Regions from separate parts of the Homo sapiens genome. Here region 2 is reported to be linked to region 1. Evidence: microRNA targets listed by miRTarBase, many of them from high-throughput screens and not tested one by one. Region 1 holds a microRNA gene; the other region holds the end of a gene's coding sequence.
Evidence for each region. The annotated mature microRNA hsa-miR-2115-5p reads AGCUUCCAUGACUCCUGAUGGA and lies in region 1 at 1,541-1,562, shown strand. An mRNA with a match to its seed (bases 2 to 7 or 8) in the 3' UTR can be bound and repressed. Matches are read on the target gene's strand: a 7mer-m8 pairs with bases 2 to 8, a 7mer-A1 pairs with bases 2 to 7 and ends in A, and an 8mer does both.

Region 1 (4,278 bases):
TTGCTTGAGCCTAGGGATTTGAGACATGAGCAACATAGCGAGACCCTGACTCTACAAAAAAAAATTAAAAAATTAGCCAGGCATGGTGGCACCTGCCTGTAGTCCTAGCTACTTGGAAGTCAGGATGATTGCTTGAGCCCAGGAGTTCAAGGCTGCAGTGAGCCATGATCGTGCCACTGCACTCTAGCCTGGGCAACAGAGCAAAGTTCTTTTGAGACGGGCAGATCAGGAGGTCAGGAGATAGAGACCATCCTGGCTAACATGGTGAAACCCCATCTCTACTAAAAATACAAAAAATTAGCCAGACGTGGTGGCGGGTGCCTGTAGTCCCAGCTACTCAGGAGGCTCAGGCAGGAGAATGGCATGAACCTGAGAGGTGGAGCTTGCAGTGAGCCAAGATCGCGCCACTGCACTCCAGCCTGGGTGACAAAGTGAGACTCCGTCTCAAATAAATAAATAAATAAATAAATGCTCCTTTTTTTTTATTTTTTGAGATGTAGTTTCACTTTTGTTGCGCATGCTGGAGTGCAATACTGTGGTCTCGGCTCACTGCAACCTCTGCCTCCTGGGTTCAAGTGATTCTCCTGCCTCAGCTTCCCGAGTAGCTGGGATTACAGGCGCACACCAACACACCTAGCTAATTTTTGTATTTTTGTAGAGATGGGGTTTCACCATGTTGGCCAGGCTGGTCTCAAACTCCTAACCTCAGGTGATCAGCCTGCCTCGGCCTCCCAAAGTGCTGGGATTACAGGCATGAGCCACTACACCCAGCCAAAAAATGCTGTTCTTAAATAGCTCCATTCTCCCCATCCTTCTTTGAACTGTTTTTGTTATACAAATTACAGCTTTATTCATTGTACACCCATTCACACAGATTTATAATTGTTTTATGCAGTTGCCTCTTAGGAGAGAAAGATTTACAAACAAAAATATGTTTATACTGTCTATTATTTTCCTATATAGTTACTTTAACTGGCTCTTTATTTCTTCACATGAATTCAAGTTTCTGCTTATGATCCTTTCATTTTAGCCTGAAGGACTATTTAGTATTTTGTAGGTCTGCTAGCAACAAATTGCCTCAATTCTTCTTTATCTAGACATATCTTAATTTCACCTTTCTTTCTGAAGAATAGTTTGGTGGGCATAGAATTCTTGGTTGACTGTCATTTTCTTTTTTTATTTTTCTTTTATTTATTCATTTATTTATGAGACCAGGTCTCACTCTGTCACCCAGGTTGGAGTGCAGTGGCATGATTGTGGCTCACTGCAGCCTCGACCTCCTGGGCTCAAGTGATCCTCCCACCTCAGCCTTCTGAGTAGCTAGGACTACAGGCACACCCCACCATGTTCAGCTAAATTTGTTTTTGTATTTTTGGTAGAGACAGGTTTTCACCATGTTGCCCAGGCTGGTCTTGAACTCCTGAGCTCAAGCAGTCCACCCTCCTCCACCTCCCAAAGTGCTGGGATTATAGGTGTGAGCCACCGTGCCTGGCCACCTCTCATTTTCTTTCAGCATTTTGACTGTCATCCCACTGCTTCCAGCTTCCATGACTCCTGATGGAGGAATCACATGAATTCATCAGAATTCATGGAGGCTAGAAGCAGTATGAGGATCATTTACATGTGATATTCACTTCTCCCTTTCTGCTTTTTGGATTCTCTCTTTGCCTTTGTCTTTTGGCAATTTTATAATGATTTGTCTATGTGTGGCTCTATTAGAATGCATCCTATTGTAAGTTTTTTGAACTTACTGGATGAAGTTTTTCATCAAACTTGGGGAATTTCAGCCATTATTTTTCCAAGTATTCTCCTCTCCTTGAGGGATTCCCTTTATGTATATGTTGATGCCCTTGACAGTGTCCCACACTTCTCTGTGGCTATATTCATTTTTTTCCCAATTTGAATTGAGTTTTATCTTATTGGTTATGTGAGGCATTTTAACCCATTTTGTTCTTTTTTCTTCATAATTATTTTTCTTTCTTTTCCTCAAACTGGTTACTATTCATTGGTCTATCTTCAAGCACATTTGACTCTTTCTTCTGTCTGCTCAAATCTTATATGAGCCCCTCCAGGGAATTTTTCATTCTAGGTCATTGTAATTTTCAACTTTAGAATTTTTATTCAGGTTCTTGGAAAATTTTTTCTGTCTCTTTATTGATATTCGCTATTTGGTGAGACATCATTCTCATACTTGCCTTTAGTTCTTTGTTCTTTACATACAGTTTCCTTCAGTTCTTTTTTTTTTTTTTTTTTTTTTTTGAGATGGAGTCTTACTCTGTTACCCAGGCTGGAGTGCAGTGGCATGATCTCGGCTCACTGCAACCTCTGCCTCCTGGATTCAAGCAACTATCCTATCTCAGCCTCCCAAGTAGCTGGGATTACAGGCTTGTGCCATCAAGCCCCACTAATTTTTGTAGTTTTAGTAAAGACAGGATTTCACCATGTTGGTCAGGCTGGTCTTGAACTCCTGACCACAAGTGATCCACCTGCCTCAGCCTCCCAAAGTGTTAGGATTACAGGAGTGAGCCACCACACCCGGCCCAGTTCTTTAAACATAAGTAAAATAGCTGATTTAAAATGTCTTGTAAGTCCAACATCTGGGCTTCCTCAGTGACAGATTCCATTGACTGACTTTTATCCTATATGCGAGCCATACTTTCTTTTCCTTTGTACGTGCCATGACTATTTTGTTGAAAATTGAATATTTTGAATAATATAATGTGGCAACTCTGGAAATCAGATTCTCACCTCTATCCAAGGTTTGTTGCTGTTATTTGTTGTTGTTGCCATGTGTTAGTTTAGTGACTTCTGAAATAATCCTGTAAAGTATGCATTTTTTGTCATGTATGGCCATTGATCTGGTCCTACTCATTATCTTATTATCAGCTAATGATTGGAAAAAAATTTCCTTAAATGGCTGGAACCAATAAATCTCCCAGTCTTTGACAACAAAAACTTTGTGTGTGCACTGAGGCATGTCTCTACTCAACCAGGCAGTTTAAAGCTACACTTTAGTGGTCACTGGATGTTTGCACAGACCCACAAGATTAGTTAGAGATGAGATGTTGGGACTTTCTCTGGTCTTTTCTGAGCATGCAGAAAGCCTTACACTGGCTGCAAGGCCTTCTGTATTTCCAGTAACATGTTAGAGCTTTTCAAAACCTCCTATGGACATCTCATTGCCTAACTTACTTTTAAGCTCTTGGTTAACCTATTGTTTTTCACAACTGTTACACACTGTGCAGCAGCCATGATGTTAAACAGTTGCCTCTGATTGTTTTCAACAAATTTTCCCAGGGAAAAGGCTGTTTGCACCAAGAGAGGTTTGAGTATGGTCAAATAAAAGCTTTGCAAATGGGTCTTTCAGAGAACCACCCAGACAGGTCAAATAATGACAATTCTCTGGTAATGGTGCATTGAAGGCATTCCAACACCAGTCTTCTCCCTCCAGATGCTGCCAGGCTGCTGGTTTTCACTATGATTGTGGGTGGTTGTTTTTCATTACTACCATGGAACTGGGAATGCTGCAGATGGGTCCAGAGCAAGATAAAATGCCATGAAACTCACTATTCTTACTGAGAAGCAGCAATTTTTCTTCAATAGATGTTCCTTGGATTGCTGCATGGTTTGATTTTTTTTTTTTTAATTCCCAGAATTCTGGAAAACTTGATTCTGACCATTTTTGCCAGTGTTCTTGTTGCTTTCGTGGAGGAAATTTTAAAGATTCTTACTTCTCCATTTTCACTGTCCAAGCAAAAGGGCTCACTTTTGAATGAAGACACTGAGACCTGAGGGGAGCAACTTATCAAAGTTCTTATAACTATAAATGGGTGCAAATGCATATTTTTAAAGATTGAGGTAAAATTCATATGACATAAAATGAACCATTTTAAAGTGAACAAATTGGTAGCATTTAGTACATTTACAATGTTATAAAACTGCCACCTTTATTACTTTCAAAACATTTTTGTCACTCCAGAATAAAACCTCATGTCCATTAAGCAGTTAACTTCCCATTCCCTCCTCCCCACAGTTCCTGGCAACTAGCAATAGACTTTCTGTTTTTACAGATTTACTATTCTGTATATTTCACATAACTGGAATTATACAACCTATGATCTTTTGTGTCTGGCTTCTTTCACTTACATAATCATTTTGAGGTTCATCCACAGTGTGGCATATATCTTCATTTCTTTTTGTATTACTGAATAGTTTTCCATTATGTGTATATACCACAATTTTTTTATTTATTCATTGAAGGAAATTTGGGTTGTTTCC
Region 2 (4,278 bases), not on the chromosome of region 1:
ATTCTGAAATAAGCTTCAGAAAAAAATGTAAGAAGCAGGCATGAGATAGCCTTAATATACACTAGAAAGCAGTTCTATATATCTTACCTATTTCCTTTAAAAATCTTATGTACATAAATCTTGAAATTGATTTACATGCCAAACTATTTTATCTTGAATATTTCCAAACATAAATCTGTGTGATGGTCATTTCATGTTAAAATGTGTATCTTAATGAGTTACAAATATTCTTCTAAAATGAGGAAAACCCACAGCAAGACAAGAAATCCACTTCTACTTCTAAAAATTGTGTAGCTGTGCTAACACATGCGTCTCTTGTAATAAATGTGATATGAGTTCAAAGGAAGACACAGAACACTAGCTATAATTTCAAAGATCAAGTTTCCTTAAAATATTACAACAGGGGAGTAGAAAATATGCACGAAGGAAACATCCCCTAGTTAAGTGCCAGACAAGCACTGATGTTCATGTCCCACCAGCAGAACACTGTCAGGAAGAGGAGAGTGGCATTTGATGAGCCTCCCACTGACCTGGCTGCAAGCTGTCAGATGCCATGTCATAGCATTTCCTCTATTTAGATACTTTCTAAGTGCCTCAAGTTTTTCAAAGGGGAAAAAGTAGAGCTTGATGGGGGTGGGGTAGCATTTCAATCTGCATGTTTGAAAACATGTCTTCATTTTCATCTATTGCCATTCTATGGAAACGCAGCCGCTTGGGCATTATCTAGCAGGTGGGACTCCACACATGCTACATGCCTCCTGCTTCCTCAGTACCTGCACCCCACCTTCACGTTTGGTATCTTTGCAAAGGCAATTCATTCTTTCAGCTTCAGTGCTTCATGGTTACTTGAGCACACAAGCAGGATCAAAACACTTAGGAACTTTCAAAAGGTTCCTCAATGACTGGGTGCCGTTGAATAAAGCAGCAAATGAAAGGGAACAGGAACAGTTCTGACACATGCACAGGGCACTGTGCTGACGCCCACGGCTCGCTGTCGCGGAGCCATGCCCTGATTTTGAAAGTCTGAAGCCTTTCCAGTGGACACTGCAGGGGTAAACGCCTCTGAACTTCACAGAGGTAAAGGAAAATACCACTAAAGTTTTCTCTTAAAAATATCTGAACTTGAAATTAATTTACATGCCAAACTGTTTTATCTTAAATATTTTCAAACGAAAAAAATTAATCACATTTCCTAACTTCATCTTTTATTTATAGTTATTCCAAAGCAGATATGCTATGATGAGATAGTTCTAAAAATACAGTTCTTTATCCTCAAAACCCTGGTTATACATGAGGCCTAGAAATCTCTTTTCTAGAATTTTTAAAACAACCAGTAAAATATAAAGATCAACCTGTACCCCACAAAGATTCAAGTAAAATTATGTCTTTTCAAAACCTTATATTTTCAAGGAATGTTCTGCAAAAAAGCAGCTTTTATAATTAGGAAGTAAATCGAAATAATACATAAAATGTCTTGTGTTTGCTAATAAATTGAGAAAAGACACAAAATTGAATTATTGATATTTTCTTTTTCTTTAACCAAAATAAAAGTAGGCTCTAGATTCACCTGTTAAGGCCTTAAACAGTCAATTAACCAATACAATTCACCAAACTAGCTTTCTATACAATTAGGAATTAAACAACCCCTTTTAGAGATGTCCTGAGATGACATTTAATGCTAAAATCAAAATAAATAACCCAGCAAGAACAAAAGTTTAAAATTCCAATAATTTCCACTTTGGGGATATTTTTTCACCAAAATTAATCAACATTTCTAAAATATTTCAATACAAAATTATAAAATAAAAAGTGCATTAAAAGCAGAACCTTTAAAACTCTAGCACAATTACAGTTATTCTGCATATGCGGCTACAGCCAGGTTTACACACTGACATTCAAGGAAGGAAACCTCCGGATTGGTAAGAAGTCCAGTATCACAAGCATAAGTCAAATAAGGCTTTTCTTTTTCTTAAAAAAATATACAATACACAAAGCAGTTTGGAAAAGAAGTAATATTATTTAACAATTTTCTGACTTAAATATCTTCACATAACAAAAGTTTTCATATCACCGTCAATATTACTTATATACATATGCCAAAAGTGAACAACAACAACAAAAAAATCAAAAGATGCCCTTTCAAAATAACAGTAAAATGTCTATTTCTTTAGGAATCTGAAATGAGCTCCTCTCTTAATATACAAAGTCCATACAATATTTATAATAAAACTACTCTCTTCTGAAACCAAGGAGGCAACGAGAGAAAATAAAGGCAATTATTTTTCAGGAAAAAAAAATAAAACCCAGCTTTATATGACAATGAAAAAGATATCCATTTATGAATAAAATGAATACAATACTGATCTGAAGTGCTCGTGGGGAGGTGAAACTGACGCTCTTTCTGCAATTAGGACTAGTACTTATATTTACAAAATATACTGTTCAGCCACACAGAGGCCCATATATCTATGTACATATGTATTTATATATAGAACATATAAATAATTTCAAAGGAAAAATTAACATGAAGTAAAGAACCTTCCATCTTTGGAATGCTGTAGGAATGGCGTGCACGCACTCTGCCCAGCACGGGTGGGATTTGGTTTGGGACATGTTTTATGTGGCACCATTGACGATACTAAAGAATTCCCTGAAATCAAAAATACATCTGTTTATGCACGAAGAGAAAGTCATGGGGTTTTTACGGATTCGTGGCCTTAAGCTACAGATATGCTTCTTATTTGCTGGGGTGGACAGGGCCACCGTTGCTTGCTCCTTGCAGACGGTTCTGTGGTTTCCTACCTGCGATGTATGGCTTGTGCTTCTGCAATTATGTAACCCTGGACCTGAACACAGATTGATGCGGTAAGTGTGTCGCCAGCCCGTGTGGACAGCTGAATCCTTATTGGTGGGTCAGGTTTACTCGAGTCCCCATGTTGACGCCCCAGATACTGCATTCTTGTAACTAATGATTAAACATTTGTCATGGAGAGAATTGGTCCAGCCATCTCTCAAGGTATCAGTTATATTAACTTATGGTAGACTGAAAAGAGTCCATTTTGACTAATTTTCAAAATGCACAGAGAAAAGAGTGGAAAAAACTTCCCTGTGTGTTGTAACACTTTTTTTTCTGAACTTCATGCCTCAATCTTACGCTTGCTTTGTAAGCTATGCTTCTTATAACCAGAAACATGAAGGAAAATCTGACATACTTTTTCAATGTTAGCGTTTTTGTCTTTGCTAATACAAAGAAATCACACTACAATGATAGTAAGACCCAGTTAATTGCTTCGTGAACTAGACACACTAGCCACGGAGGAGACTGAGGAGGAAACTGCCTACAGTAGTACCTGAGTTCAGTGATTTGTAGACAAAAGAGAACAATGCGGTGACACTTTTCCTAGTTTTTTTTTCCTATGAGTCTCTGAAAGACAATGATTCTTTAGATAATTTTATAGATAAAAAACTATTGTAGCATTTTTAACACTTGAAGCTTTAAAACGGAGATTCCAAGTGCTTTGCTCTTCACAAAACGTAACTTCAGAAACATTCTTAAAGGTGTACTTCCAACTCGCATCAGAAGACGTGGGTGAGGGCCTGCCACTCGCCGGCGGCCTCCTGCACCACCTCCTCCAGGTGGAGGGTCCGGCTCAGCTCCTCCCCGTCCTGCTCCGGGTGACCTGCAGACTCCTGCAGAGCTCCTGTTATGCAGACAAAGAAAACACAAGCAGCCTCAGACCTTCCAGAGCACAAAATGATTCCTATTTAAATAAAGACTTTCTGGTAGAAAGAGACAAGGAATTTCTAAAGTAATTTGCTTTTCATTCCAGTGAAAAAAGAGTAATTTGAGCTGCAGGTGAAACACCTCTGCCGGCAGGACAGTAGTTACTGTTAGGAGTATGAACGCACACACAGCACTGGTGATATGAGTGCACTCCTATGACAGCTACATTAACACAGCATCAGGAATGAGCAATAACCAACACACATGATTTCCATAATAAAAAGGAAAGCAGGAAGCACTACAGTGTAGACGTTAAAGAGAAAAAATTACCCCTTTTTCCTTCCTCAAAAACTCCCCACAATATAGTGTTCTGCCCTCGGGTTCCCTACACTGAAAGCCGTCGAGCTCCCCTCACAAAGTACCGCACCTCAAACAACCAAAGAACACCTGCAAGCCTCACAGAGCACACCACCACCTCCAACACCAAATCACAAATCTCACAGATCACACCACCTCCAACACCAAATCACAAATCTCAGAGATCACACCACCTC

Region 2: miRTarBase lists ZNF236 as a target of hsa-miR-2115-5p. Seed matches in the 3' UTR shown: 7mer-A1 at 760-766.

Annotation. Positions count from the first base shown.
Region 1 is chr3:48,313,702-48,317,979 of GRCh38, reverse strand. MIR2115 (microRNA 2115) reads left to right here and starts at 1,521; the gene lies at 1,521-1,620. The region is part of intron 6 of SPINK8 (serine peptidase inhibitor Kazal type 8 (putative)); the gene reads left to right.
Region 2 is chr18:76,967,638-76,971,915 of GRCh38, reverse strand. ZNF236 (zinc finger protein 236) reads right to left here. Exons shown (of 31, transcript NM_001306089.2): 31 at 1-3,701. The coding sequence ends at 3,577. Among named protein-coding and RNA genes, the nearest start is that of MBP-AS1, 11 kb to the left of the region's middle.